Homo sapiens: one gene and its partner. The protein of the gene in region 1 interacts with the protein of each later gene in a biochemical or structural test. Each region holds a gene or a part of one and is shown on either strand. Other genes may lie near its edges.

Evidence for each region. The genes of interacting proteins can lie anywhere in the genome.
Region 2: the proteins of ROBO3 (region 1) and NELL2 form a complex in vitro, tested with the Homo sapiens proteins (one study listed by IntAct).

The regions. Positions count from the first base shown.
Region 1 is NC_000011.10:124,860,691-124,868,443, reverse strand, and holds the start of ROBO3 (roundabout homolog 3 isoform a precursor), read right to left. Parts: upstream 3,013-7,753; 5' UTR 2,867-3,012; coding exon 2,707-2,866; intron 1-2,706. UniProt on the Homo sapiens protein: Receptor involved in axon guidance during development. Acts as a multifunctional regulator of pathfinding that simultaneously mediates NELL2 repulsion, inhibits SLIT repulsion, and facilitates Netrin-1/NTN1 attraction.
Region 2 is NC_000012.12:44,866,309-44,873,336, reverse strand, and holds part of NELL2 (protein kinase C-binding protein NELL2 isoform b precursor), read left to right. Parts: intron 1-7,028. UniProt on the Homo sapiens protein: Plays multiple roles in neural tissues, regulates neuronal proliferation, survival, differentiation, polarization, as well as axon guidance and synaptic functions.

The DNA of each region.
Region 1 (7,753 bases):
CCAGTGGTTTCCATCTCCACCTGCACTGGTTCACGGATCGTCCTTGCTCAGTGAAAGACCATAAACCGTGCACTGGAGCCAACAGTTTGTTCTTGACTTCTGCAAGGTCCTGGCTCAGTGAAATTGGGAATGTGGACTGGCTTGGGATCCCTTATGAAAGGCAAGACGGGAGTGACAGGGCCGGGCCTAGAAGGGCTTGTCAACCTGGATTCTATGAATCGGCACAGGGCCCTTCTTACTGACACCCCGGATAATCACGCTTCATTTCAAGGGTCCTGTGAAGTCACAGGAATTGAACGCAAATAGCAGTAGAAATGTTAGTAAGGCTCCTTTTCCTGACAGGTGCATAGTTTCCAATAGATTATTCTACTGATTGATGTTCCTCTACTTCCCCTGTTCACTCCGATCAGTTCATCCACATATTCTGTCCTACCTGTCACTTGGCCTGCAGACTTTGGCCTGTTTCACCTTCTGCAGCACGGTTAGGATCCCGGAGCCTGTTATACTCCGGCACTCTCAGCCCCTAGTCCAGCCAACAAAAGTGGATTTGTAACCCGTGGCGGCCAGTAGGTGCCACTGCAGCCTTTAATAACCTGCTGTAAAATAACCAGGGACCACTTCAAGCATCTGTTCTGCCCCCTGCCCCCTCCCCCTGTTCCCCCCTTCCTACCCTGTTCCAAAATCTGCAGGAACCTCCCGCTTCCAGCCCGCCTGTGAGATTGGGTTTCATTTCCTGCCCCCCCTCTTAGAAGTTCTGTTGTAGACAAAGCTGGACAGGCTGACCCGTGCTGGCGCTGTTCTGAGTTTATTTTAATTGCCTGGAGTCAAGAAGATCGATTTCTGTCCCACTTGGGAGAGTAATTTTCTCCATCTCCTCCCTTCCAAATGGAAATCTCTGCTTTTCACCCTTCTCTTCTCCTCCATCTCCTCCCATTCCCAATTTTGGAACACCCCGTGGTGAGCAACACTGGAGTGATTGAGAGCAAGTGTTGCTGTTGAACCAACCAGGGCTGGAATCTCAGACTTTGACGCTTCCTAGCTGTAAGAACTTGGGCAAATTATTTAACTTCTCTCAGTCTCAGTTTCTTTCTTTGTGATGTGAGAGCAGTGATAGGGTTGCTCTAAGACCATAATGTATGTAAAGCCCTTGGGGGATAAACGTCACTACTCTGCCATTATTTAAGGGCTTGTGTTCCCAGCATATGCACCTTATCTTGGCTCCTACAGTCTCTACCTGAATCAAATTCTACCAGGCCCCAATATTCTTTTTTCCCCTTGGTATAGCCCTCAGGTGTAATGGAAATGGACTGATCTGTTATCGCTAGGTTTTGCTTCATGCTGCTTTTGTGACGATTAGGGCACCATTCACTCTATAAAGCGTTTTCTCGGCGGCAAAATGTGTCTGTCAACACCTTCCTTGCATACCTCACTAAGTTTCGAGCTTAGATGAGACAAAGTATGGTGAAAACACTCTGTAAACGCGCTAGGTGAGCAGAAGCGGGACTCTGCGGGGTGCCAGCGAGAAGGGATCTGTGCTTAACCTCCTGGAAATCTAGGAGGGTCAAGAGGTTGGAGAATCGGGCTCCTCCCCCATCGTCTTTCTCCCCAATCCTTCTATACGGACCACACCCTTCTGGTCGGCCTTTTCCCCCTAATTCCTGTAGACACAGCTGCAGGCGCCCTTTCCCTGGAATTTCCCCCTCTACCCTTCCCGGTCTCAGGAGATGCTTCGACTGCAGCCTAATGAATAGCTAATGGCCATGCTAATGAGGCTCTGGGGCTCCTCCCTCAGCACCTGATGTGCCCCACACATGAACACACACATATTGCCAGGGTCTCCTTTCTCTCCACCTTCGAGTCCCCAGCACAGTGCTCGTCACTAGACTCGAGTGGGTCGAGGCAGAGGGATGGGGACCGCGTGCACCTGGAGGGAACCACACGCGAAAGCGCCCGGTAAAGCGGGGGTTCCCGATGCGGCAGGCAGGGGGCGCGCTCCGGCCTCTCCGCAGGCTGGCGGCGGCCGGCTCCCGCAGCTTCCCCGCGGCGCTAGGGGAGAGCGCGCTGTCCCAGTCATTTATTAATCACCGTAATTAGCGGTAACGACCTCGCCGCCAGCTCCGCCCGCCCGCCACAGCTCTGCCGGGGTGGGCCGGCTGAGAGTCCCGCCGCTGAAAGACAAACTTCTAAGTTTCCTTAAAATGATCGCCGCCCCTATCCCCTCCGTAGCAAACACATCCAGCATTTTGGCTTCCTCTGGTCCTAAGTGAGTTCTTGGGAAACTTCGGGGTTCCGAAGACCAGCTGCCTGGGTGGGTCACCGAGTGACCTGGCTTGGCCGAGGCCGGCGGGAGACTGTGCCCCCTCCTCTGCCCTCCCTGCGCTGGGCCCGGGCCTTTCTTAGCTCGGACTTCCCTGCCCGTTACCAGCAACGGTTCTTCTCACCTGGGGTGGGCGTTGTAGGGGAAGGGAAGGAGGTGTAAAAAGACTCAGTAGCCATCTTCTCCCAAGCCCTCGACCTCCCGCGGGTACCCCCACTCATGTGCTCGAAGCTCCAAATTATCCCTTAGACCCCACGACCCAGGGAGGCGCTGGGAGGCGCCACTCAATCCCGGACCTCGGGACAGGAGCGCTTCTCCTTCCCTTCCACGCCGCCCTCTCACCTCATCCCCATCCCAGGATCCCATATCCCCAAGAGGCAGGGTCTCACCGTTGAGAGAGGGATCGCCGGGAGGCAGCAGGGTGTGGTTGAGCGCCGCCAGCGAGGAGTTGAAGCCCAAGAGCAGCTCGCTGGAGTTGGAGATGTCCCCGGCCAGAGAGTCCGCGAACAAGTTCATCTGCAGCAGCGTTTTCAGCAGGTAGCGCAGCATGGCTCGACCCAGCTGGGATCGGGACTGGGGGCTGGGGGCCCAGCCCCTGGGTCTGAGACCCGTGGGCTGGGAGCCGTAAGCCCCTCCACAGCCTCTGCGCGCTGCGGCAGCCACGGTGCCGCTCTCCTGCCGGTGCGCCTGGGTACGGTCGGTGCCTCTTCGTGCCCTCCTCCTTCCCTCGTCCTTCTCTCCACCCCCTAGTGCCGGAGTCCCCTGGGAGCTGGGCAGGCGGAAAGCAGGTGCCACGCCGATCACGGCGTAATTAAGGGATTAATCCGCCTCCCTCCACCCTCCCACCCTTACCTCTACAGTCACTATCCGAGCAGGAGACACGAGTAGCGTAGCGCGCGAGTTGGAGTCCCCGCCCCGCACCCCAAGCCCAGCGTTCCGTTCTGGACGCGGCGAGAGATTTTCCCTGTCTCAAAGCACCCAAGATGAGGGACGAGGCTCTGTCGGACTCTGCCCTTCTGCCCAACTTTAGAACAGGAATCTGTCCTCTCTTTTCCCGAACCTTTTGGAAACTGAGGCAAAGCGCAAGCAATGCTCCTTGCTGCCAAAGTTCTGGTTTCCATTCCCTCCCAAGTCTAGGGGTTTGGCGACGGAAGGGCAGGAGACTGGGGTGGTTTGCAGCAAGAGTTGGGAGTAGGCAGAGAATTCCAAGACAGGTCCACCTCTCTGCCCTCTGGTCCTTTGGTCTGCAGCCAGGAGGCCAGAGGATGGAGCGGCGCGCCCTGACCCGGGAGTCCTGCTCCAAACGCCCTAATCTAGGAGTTCCTGTAGGAGACTGAAAGCCAGGGAAACCCAGGCAACTGTCATTTATTTGAATCCTTTTACATTACCCTGCTTTGACATTTTTTATTAAATTGTTTTACGTTTTTGAGGAGACTGAAATGGAACCAAGGATTCTAGGACAAAAACAAAGATAATATTATTTTTGTAAAGGCATGTGGGATTGCTGCAAAATTAGTGCAAATCTGTTCAAATCGGATAGCAGTCGTCCTTCCTGGGGGGGGCGAAAAGAAAACCATGGGCCCCTACTCCCACCTCCCACTTCCAGTCGCGGTCTGCTTCTGACTTTTCTGGAGTTCTTTCTACCTGAAGACCCACCTCGACAAACTCACTTTCCTAGACAGGAGATGGCTTTGGGGTATCAGGGAAAGAGAGAGGCCGGGGCATTCCTAACCTGAGGTAAGGCCCTGCTGATTGAAGAGTCAGTGCCAGAGTTCTGGCTCAGCCGTCAGGTTCTGGGATGAGACAACTTTCATGGGGCGACTGCTTCTGACCCCAAAGGGGTCGAGATCAGAGGGGTGGGTGCTATACAGTCGCAGACTCTGGAGTAAGCAGAATCAAGAATTGAAATATTTCAGGCAGAGCTTGTTCAAGGGAACCCGAGACATTGTCAAGGGGTGGGGGGCTTGTTCCAAGCCTCCTTCCTCAGTCCAGGCGCCTGGCTGTGAGCCTCCAACTATGGGTGTTTAGGTGCCTTCCAACCCTAGCAGTTCTGGGCGGGACGTAGAAAGGCTGGAAGCACTAGGTGTGGGGGAGGGGGTAGGTGGGAGTGGGGGTGGGGCCGGATGGACCCCCCACCCCACCGCCACGCAGCGCCCTGGGAGCTGTCCTTTTCAGCACCTCATCTGCAGGTGCCTGACTAGGGCCCTGGAGCCCCCAGGGAAGACATAAATCCGAGCAGACCCTGAGGCTGAGGACTGGGGTAGGTGGGAGACGGGCTAGAGACACATCCTTTCAAAAGCAAGAAGATAATAAGAGATTTGACGCCCCTCCCTTCCTCGCTCCAGGGTGGTATTCAGATAAGAGAGAAAGTAAGGGATGTATTTCCCACCCGAAATCTATCCTTCAGGAATGACCAACACAGAAGTGGGTTCTAATTCTACGTTTGCCAAGTACAAGACGTCACCGCTTTGGATCTCAGTTTTCCCATCTGTTAAGGAGGAATTGGAGTGCTTGATCTACTCTGACCTGTGAGATTCGAGGCTCCGGGGCCCTTTGCTCCGCCCCCTGCTGACCGCGGTCACCTGGGTTCCATCACAGCAGAGGCTGAATCGGGATAGAAACCCCACGTCCTGGTACCAGGCCCTACTCTGGGGCGGAGGGGGCCAGAAACCCTCCCACCATGCGGCTCCTGCCCGGTCCTAATGCCCTGATTTGCTCCCGGCTGGCCTCTCCGCAAACACAGGGCCTGCCAGCGTCTAGGGGCTTGTCACCCTGTTAGCGGATTTGTTCCCGGAGACGGCGCAGTTAATTGGCCCTTTATGTGGGGATCAGGGCGTATTTGCTCAGGGTTCCCTGAGCGGAGGCGCGGCTCAACCCGTGAGCAAGGCTGCTTCACAGTCCCTGTCACGTGGGTTTGGAGGCTGGACAAATAGCCGGGCCACTCTACTTTCCAGGAATCTGCTGTCTCTCCTACACTTCACCTCGTCTGGGCTCTCTCTAATTTTCACTCTCCACTTTTTCTTGTTTCTCTCTGCTCTTTCCTTCTTTGTACTTCTCTTTATCTTGATGATACTCTCCTTTTAAACCAAACTCAGATCTAAGCCAAGAGGGCTGAGTTCTCCCAACTGGGGATATCAGAGAATAAATACCTCCCAACCATAACCTAAGTTCCCTCCCTTTTCCTTCCCATTCTCTAGTGTCCTTACGGCCCTGGGCTAGGCAGAGTGGAGCAGAGAGTGGGCAGAGAAGGCCCAGCAGAAGTCACACCTCCCAGCTCTTCTGCAGCCCTCTCCCCACCTTCTCTTCTTTACTGAGGGTCAGACAGGCAGCCTAGAAACTGGCCCTGCCCCTGTCCACATCCAGCTTCTCTCCTGGCTACCCCCATAGGCAGTTCTGAAAGGGGTTTGCCTCCTACTAGTCTCCTCACTGCCTGCTCTGCTCTCTGAAAATTACCAAGACAACTCTTTGTCCTTTTTCTGGAGTGGGTATGCAACTCTTTGCAACTATGTCCATTTCCTAATTTGTCAACTGTAAGTGCCTGTACAGCACCTAAAACACTGAGTAGATGCCCTGCAATTGGAGGAGCCTCAGCCGGGGTGCATTCATTCTGTTGACTTATAAATTTCCACCTTGGGCTGGAGAAAGAGTCAGAGTTGGGTTTAGAGACCCTCTCTTCTACCACCTCAGGAAACTACTTCTTTCCCAGAGTTTTACCAACAATATGTACAGTCCAGACTTTAGAAAGGGTAAGAAAAAGAAACAGAGGTTTTGAAGGAGATTTGGCAGAAAGAAGAGAGAGTAGCAGGAAGCAGGGAGGTTGGGGCGAGTTGAATTTGTAGAGTTAGGAGCTAAGTTTGTTCTGATAAGGTTACAGCATCTGATGGGAAGAAGTGTGTGTGTGTGTGTGTGTTTGCGTGTGTGTGCATGTGTGGGTTCACAGGTAGAGCCCTAGAAAAGAGCCCTGGGCCAGGAGTTGATGAGGTAATATAGAAGAGGAATATTTCTTTCCTATGGTGGTATTTTGGGTGGGTGGATTTGCAGAGGAACATGGGAAATGGGAAGGGCAAGTGATTATGAGTAAGGCAGGAACCCTACACAAGAGTGGTGTTTTGGGAATCATGAGCCTCTAAAGGAACTCTCCATCCCACCCCCCACTGGTGTGTGAGTGTGTGTGTGTGTGTTCACGTGCTAGGGGAGAGAACAGCTACCCCAGGCTAACTTTCTTGGCCTAGTGCCAGCATATCGGCCAGAGAATGTGGCTGGGAATTTTCAGTGGCCAAGCTGGGGCCATATGGGGAGGCTTCTTGGTGGTCTAAAGCCTGCATGCCGGCTGGTAGTGGATGAAGCTGCTGGCATGTAATTGCCCAGGAGTGCAGTCTGAAGACAACCCCCCATTACTACCACTGCCTCCCCCCAATGTACACACACACTGTCCGGTCCATTTGCATCCCCCCAGAGCCTGTAGCCTGCCATCACTCTCTGCCTGGACCCCTTCCCAGGACATTAATACATATTGAGTGTGAGATTGTGTGTGTGTGTGTGTGTGTGTGTGTGTGTGTGTGTTTGCTGGGAGGGGGACAAAGAAATAACATCTGCCCCTTACCCCCACTAGGGTATGCCTGTGAATGGCCCAGCAGGGCTGCTGGCTTCAGAGTGATGATGCCAGGGGGCAGCGACCCAGCCAGCAGGGGCCAGAGAACCAAACAGGAGGGGGAATCAGAGAGCAAAGAGCAGGCACCCAGCTGGAAAGCAGACAGCAGGAGCCTGCCCCCGGCAGGAGCCAGAGTGTGTTGGCTCAACCCCTATAGCTGCTGAGATAATAAGCCAAGGCCCCCTGCATGAAAGTCCCCCTTTCCCCACAGGGTTCCAGTGGAGGAGACTGTGGGGAGACACTTTGCAACACACTCTACCAAGACTGGAAATCTGGAGACAACTGGGCAGAAATGTTCACATCCCAATACAGATAAAACAAAGTCCAGGGAGAAAAAGAGCTTTCTTGGTTCTTTTTATAAAACTAGATACAGAGCAAGCTTCCATAAATATACACTTGGTGACTATACCTGATTAAATAGTTAGTCCTCACAACTACCCCTGCAGAGCCCACTAGCCTTCTCTCTCTCTCCTTTTGCATTACAGCTGCTGTAAGAAAGTACCAAAAACTAGGTGGCCTAAAACAACAGAAATGTATCCTCTCACAGGTTAGAAGCCTGAAATCAAGGTGTCAGCTGGGCCATGCTCTCCCTGAAGGCTCCAGGGAGGGATCTGTTCTTGCCTCCTCCAGCATCTGCTGATTACCAGCAGTGCTTGGCCTTCCTGGTCTTGAGGATTCATCACTCCATCTCTGCCTCTGTCTTCTTATGGCCTTCCCTGGGTGTGTGTCTCGGTGTCTCTTACCTCTTCTTATAAGGCCACCAGTCATTGGATTAGAGTCCAATT
Region 2 (7,028 bases), on another chromosome or scaffold:
GTTTTGTTTGAATTGTCCATAGTAACTAGATATCCATGTACATTGATGAATTGGTTGTTTTTCCTTCCTTGTTGATGCCGAGCTCAATATTTAGACAGAGTAAATGCCTAACAAATATGGTTTATGAGATTTGAAGGTGTAAAATTTCATTTTCTGCCAAATTATGGACTTTATTTAATATAACCAATCAATCAGCAAGTATTTCCTGCATGCCATGTTCTCAGTAGGCATATATTACTGATGTATTGATTATGCTCTTGTGATTTCTTTTATTCTAAGATTCGGATTATGAAATTGACAAAAGGTGGCCCTTTGGCCATGCATGGAATTTCGCATTACCTTGGCAAGGTCTTTGCTAATAGCATTTGGAAACTTGTTAAGAAGTCAGTTCCGAGTCTTGCTGCTTCATTGAGATTTCCTTTGGCTTTAGAGAGAAAAAAATATACAGACTGAAGATTTTATAGATTCTATTTACAGTGAGTTGAGGGTGCTGCAGATATTTTGTACGGTATATACATATACACTATACATAGTCATAGCAGGAATAGTAACAAATTACAAAATCCGTGAGATGCTCTCAGGTTTCATATGAACCTATCATATAAGTTTCTTTGTGCTATCAGATATGTTCTAAATAGATGGAAGAGATTTTTGGACCATCAAATTTTTCCTGCAGTAATGTAACCATCTTCTTCTGTCTTTTAGCTTTAAAATAAAGAAATCTCAACATATACTTTCCCAGTGATTTTTGCTCATTTAATATTGCTTTTCCTTGTGCCAGTTTTTCTCCTTAGTGGATTTTGAGATGCATGCAATTCAATACCTTTTGAAACTCGTAAATTTATTATTATCTATACCTAATAAAAACAAATGGAAATATATTTTAAAGTCATATGTTTTAAAAATAATAATAGCAACTATAGTATCACTAAAATGGTTTTGTTGTTGTTGAAATTTGATTTATAGTTGTTTTGGAAATTCAAGTAATAAGATGCTAAATTAGATTACACCTTAATAAATATGGCTTTTGATCTTTGCCAATTACCATAATTTTCAAAAAAGGAATCCAGGCAATTTTCTAGTCATTTCTAGCTATAATCTGACTTGCAGCCACAAAAATACACTTATTATGCTTTTAAAAATTAGAGGAGTGAATGTAGACAATAAAAAGACCTATGAAAGGTTATAAAGGGTTCTACTTTCTAAAATCTAGGAAGTATTCCCCAAGATAATGATCATAATAATGTTTTTTTCCTCTCTGTACATGAGGGATCAGGAATGAGAGTATACAGAAGCACCATTCTAGGACTTTCTAGCAATGTTAGCATGATTTTTAGATCTTTGATTTTAACAATTAATCTGGCCAGGTTCCCAAAGTAGATAATTTCCTCTGTTGGTTTAATACAATTTCTTCTGAAGTGTTAACAGATTTTATAATCTCATTAATCCATAGAAGAGAAGTGGATAAAATCAAAGCATGTTTTTTTTACAAGTTGTTAAGTTGAAAATAAGCTTAGTAGTTATTTGTAAAAAACTTTAAGGTTTTAAAGGGAAAAAAAGGTCGTACGTCTCCTCTTATGCCAGTGTTACGCAGAGTGAAATAGGCATTTGGTAATAGACCATGGACTTTAGTAGGCAAAGGTAACTGCATTGAGGAAATCGAGGTGGCACTAATTTGTCTTCAGTATGATGGTTGGTGAGCATCTGTGGACTTTGAAGTGATGGCTGTTGGTGCCCAAATAGTGTGGAATAACACAGTGTTTAAGAGATGCACTTAGAAACAAGATAGACTGAGGTGGAATTTCATTAGTTGTTTTACTGTGGTGAAGTTACTTAATTTCTCTAAGCTCCAGTACCCTCAATTATAAAATGATCATTGTTATGACAATTAAGCGAGTTACTTTCATTCTTTCAAATAAGTTATTTTTGGGAAACTAGCATACTGCTAGGTGTTAGGCACATAACAAATGAAGACGTTAGAACTTAACTTTGATTTCATAGTGTCTTAAAAATAGCCGTTGAACAATTACATAGTTACAGACCTAATCACCATTAAGATAAATTATATGAAGAAAAACTGAAGATATAATGGGAATCTATATTTTAGTTAGGGGAGTCTCAGGCTCAGGGAAACCATCTTTGAAGAATAGTCATTTAAGCTGATAGTTGAAGGATATGTAAGAGTAGTCCAAAGAAGAGAAGCTATGGGGATAGGCAAAGGGACTAGTGTGTGAGCAAGGTTCTGAGCATGGGATGAATGTGCATTTGAGAACGTGGAGGAAGTCTAGAGAAGTAGAAACATAGGGCATGTGATATGAAATAAAGTATATGAGGAAAGCAGGAACCAGGTTACATGGTAGGCTATACTAATAGAGCAGAATTGAAAATTTATCATTATGGAAATATATATTATGGTGGGCAGAATAATGGTCCTGCATAGATGTTCATGTCTTAATTCTTGGAACCAAACAATAGGTTACGTTATACAGCAAGGGGAAGTTAAGTTTGCTCATCAGCTGACTTTAAGATTAGGAGGCTATCATAGGTTATCTGGGTGAGCCCTGTGTAATCAGAAGAATCTTTTGAAATGGGGAGAAGGAAGCAGAATAGTCAGTGTAGAGTGATGTGATATGAGAAAAACTAGTCTGGCCACTGGTGGCTTTAAAGGTGATAGTGGGCCACAAGCCAAGGACTGCAGGCAGTTTTTAGATGCTGAAAAAGGCAAGAAAATGAGTTTTCTCTTACAGCCTCCAGAAGGAATGTAGTGCTACTGATACCTTGATTTTAGACCAATGAGACTCATTTTGGACTTCTGATCTCCAGAACTGTGAGATAATAGATTTGTGTTGATTTAAGTCACTAAGTTTGTGGTGATTTGTTTGAGCAGCAATAGGAAACGAATACAAATTTTCCTGCATGGAAGTGTGGTGCTGGTGTAAGAAATACCTAAAAAATATGGAAGTGGCTTTGGAACTGGGCAATGGGCAGATGCTGGATGAATTTTTAGGAGCATGATAGAAAAAGCCTAGATTGCCTTAAATAGACTTTCAGTAGAAATATGGTTATTGGTGACTCTATTATTGAGGACTTAGAAGAAAGTGAAGAGCATGGTAGAGAGAAAATCTAAATCACCTCTGAATATTCCTAAATTATCATAAGCGAGCATTGGTTAGGTATAGACATTGAAGGAACTGCCATTGAGGGCTCAGATGGATATAAAGAATTTTTATTATAAACTGAAGGAAAGGGGACCCTTCTTACACAGTGGCAGAAAACTTAGCTGAATTGTACCCTGTGGTTATGTGGAAAGCAAAACTTGTAAACAATGAACTTAGATTTTAGCTAAGGTGATTTGTAAGCAACAAAAGTGTTGAAGGTGCACTCTGGCTTTTTCTTGCTGTTTGTAGTAACGTGAGAGGAGAGAGAGAGATTTAGGGAATAATTGTTGAGCAAAACATATTCATAACTTGATATTTGAGAAATTATCAACCTATTCAGATTCCAAAACATGTTAAAATAGGATATTCACTGTTAGGAATACCTAGTCTGAAAAGAAAGCCAAGGATGTGACTAGAAAATATTTTGCTAGTGCCTCAGAAATATCAAAAGGTCAGAGTATTCAGTTACATTGAGGGCTCTTTGAAGAACATATGACTCATAGATCCCCTCAACCATTTCAGCAGAGGTCACAAATAGAGATGGAATTATCCAAGAAATATCTATGGAGGAGCCTTTTTTGTTTAATGGAGTGAATCCCCATGACATACATGGGAGATCTACAAGGTTCTTAAGAATATTATGGCAGTAAAATTGCTGCTGGTGTGGCCTGAAAGAATCAGTGAGAGAATAAAATGAAAGAAGGTGTTGGATCCCCAAAATTCTACAAGCAAAAAACAGGCTGACTTGGCTGTCAACATCTTTCTATGAAGCTACCTTTCATGAAAAAAGAAGGTTAATTCAAAGGGCAGAACTCAGAGCCCAGAGCATGGAGCTGACTCCAGAGGGTGGAACCAATAATTACAGAAGCTTATTTCTAGACCTTGAAACCAAGTGGTGTTTGCCTGGCTGGATTTTAAAGTTGCTTGGATATGGCAATTGTTTTTTTTTCTTTCTTCCATTTTCTCCCTTTTTGAATGAGAATATTTAGAACTATCATCTTTATCTGCCTTACCATTGTGTTTTTGAGAGCAGATACTATGTTTCAAGGTGTGCCTCAGAATGGATTATATGCAGCGCCTTTCTCATACCTGTTTTAGATGATTTGGATGATGAGATTTGAGACTTTTGTTTTTGTTTTATGTTTTGTTACTTAAAATTTAATTATTTTTAAATTGACAAAATTGTATACATTTATTGTGTACAACACAATATTTTGAAATATACATTGTGGAATGGCTAAATTGAGCTAATTAACATATTCATTACCTCATGTACTTATAATTTTTTTTGGTGAGAACACTTAAAATCTATTTGAAATTTTGAAGAGTACAATGTATTATTACTATAGTCATTATGTTGTACCATAGATCTCTTGAACATATTGTGCCATCTAATTGAATTTTGGTCCTTTGACCAACATCTCCCCAACAACTATCCCCCATCCCCAGGCCCTAGTAACCAGCATTCTACTTTCTGCTCCTATAAGTTCAACTTTTTAAGGTCCCACATATAAGTGAGATCATGTGGTATTTGTCTTTCTGTGAAGGGCTTATTTCACTTTACATAATGTCTTCCAGGTTGATCCACGTTGTCTCAAATAACAGGATTTTCTTCTTTGAGGTGGAATAGTATTCCATTGTGTACATATACCACATTTTCTTTATGTGTTCATTTGCATTCGTATGTTCTTTGCAGCATTATTCATAATTGTCAAGATGTGAGATCAACCTAATTAATGGTCACCAATGGATGAATGAATACAGAAAAATGTCATTGGAATTTTAATAAGGGTCGCAGTAAATCTGTAGATCATTTTGGATAGTGTGGAAATTTTAACAATATTAATTCTTTGAATCCATGACCAAAGCATATCTTTTCATTTATTTGTGTCTTCTTCATTTCTTTCATCAGTGTTTTATAGTTTCAGTATACAGCTCTTTCACCTTCTTGATTAAATTTATATGTAAGTATTTTATCTTTTTCATAGCCATTGTAAATGAGATTGTTTTCATGATTTCTTTTTCAGGTAGTTCATTTTTTTTTTTTTTTTTTTTTTTTGAGATGGAGCCTCACTGTTTCACCTAGGCTGGAGAGCAGTGGTGAGATCTAGGCTCACTGCAACCTCTGCCTCCTAGGTTCAAATTATTCTCCTGCATCAGCCTCCCAAGTAGCTGAGATTACAGGCACCCGTCACTACACCCGGCTAATTTTTGTATTTTTAGTAGAGACAGGGTTTCACCATGTTGGCCAGGCCAGTCTTGAACTCCTCACCTCAAGTGATTGGACCGCCTCGGGCTCACAAAGTGCTGGGATTACAGGTGTGAGCCACTGCACCTCACCAGTTTATTGTTAACATAGAGACACTACTTTTTGTTTGTATATTGATTTGATATCCTGAAACTCTACTGAAATCATTTATTAGTTCTGACAATTTTTTGGTGGCATCTTCAGGATTTTCTAGATATAAGATGATGTCAAATGCAAGCAGGGATAAGTTAACCTCTTCCTTCCCAATTTTGATGCCTTTTATTTCTTTCTCTTGCCTAATTGCAAGTCTAGGACTTACAGTACTATGTTGAATAGAAGTGGCAAGATTGGGCATCCTTGTCTTTTTCCTTATTTTAGAGGAAAAACTTTCAACTTTTTACTGTTGAGTATAATGTTAGCTGTAGATTTGTTATATCTGAACTTTATTGTGTTGAGATACATTTCTTCTATACATTTATTGAGAGTTTTTATCATGAAATGATGTTGAATTTTGTCAAATGTTTTCCTGCATATGTTGAAATGATCATGTGGATTTTGTCCTTTATTCTGTTAATTTGATGTATCACATTTATAGATTTGTGTATGTTGAGCCATTCTTGCCTCCTTGGGATAAATCCTACTTGATCATGGTGAATGATACTTTTAATGTGCTGTTGAGTTTGGTTTGCTAGTATTTCGTTGAGGATTATTTCATCTCTGTTCGTCAGCAATATTGGCCTGTAATTTTCTTGTAGTATCCTTATTTGGCTTTGGTGTCATAGTAATGCTGGCCTTATAAGATAAATTTGGAATTTATTCCCTCTTCTTCATTTTTTTGGAAGAGTTTGAGAAGGATTGGTATTGGTTATTTAAATAGAGTTTAGCAGTGAAGCCATCAGGCCTTGGACTTTTCTTTGATGAAGGACTTTTTATTATTGATTCAATTTGCTTACAAGTTATTTGTCTGTTCAGATTTTTCATTTTTTCATGATTTTGTCTTGGTAAGTTGTATGTGTCTAGGAATGAATACATTCCTAGACATATACACTTAAACTTCTAAGTTTATCTAATTTGTTGGCATATAATTGTTTATAGTAGTCTCATGATGTTTTGTATTTCTGTGGTATCAGTAATAATGTCTCTTCTTTCATTTCTGATTTTATTTATTTGAGTCTTCTCTCTTTTTTCTTAAATTTCTTAGCTAAAGGCATGTCAATTTTGTTTATCTTCATTAGAAAACAACTCTCTGTTTCATTTATTTTTTCTATTAATTTTAGTCTCTCTCATTTATTTCTGCTCTGATCTTTATTATTTCATTCCTTTGGTCTTACTTTGGTCTTATTTTGTTTTTCTTTTTGTAGTTCATTTATTTGTAACTTTAGGTTATTTGTTTGAGATTTTCTTCTTTTTAAATGTAGGCATTTGTTGCTATAAACTTACCTCTGAAAACTGCTTTTGCTGCATCCTTTATGTTTTGGTATGTTGTGTCCATTCTCATGTGTTTCAAGATGTCTTCTAATTTCCCTAATTTCCCCTTTCCTTCTAATTTCCCTTTTAATTTCTTTTTTGACCAATTAGTTGTTCATGAGCATGTTAATTTTTATGTATTTGCAAATTTTGTG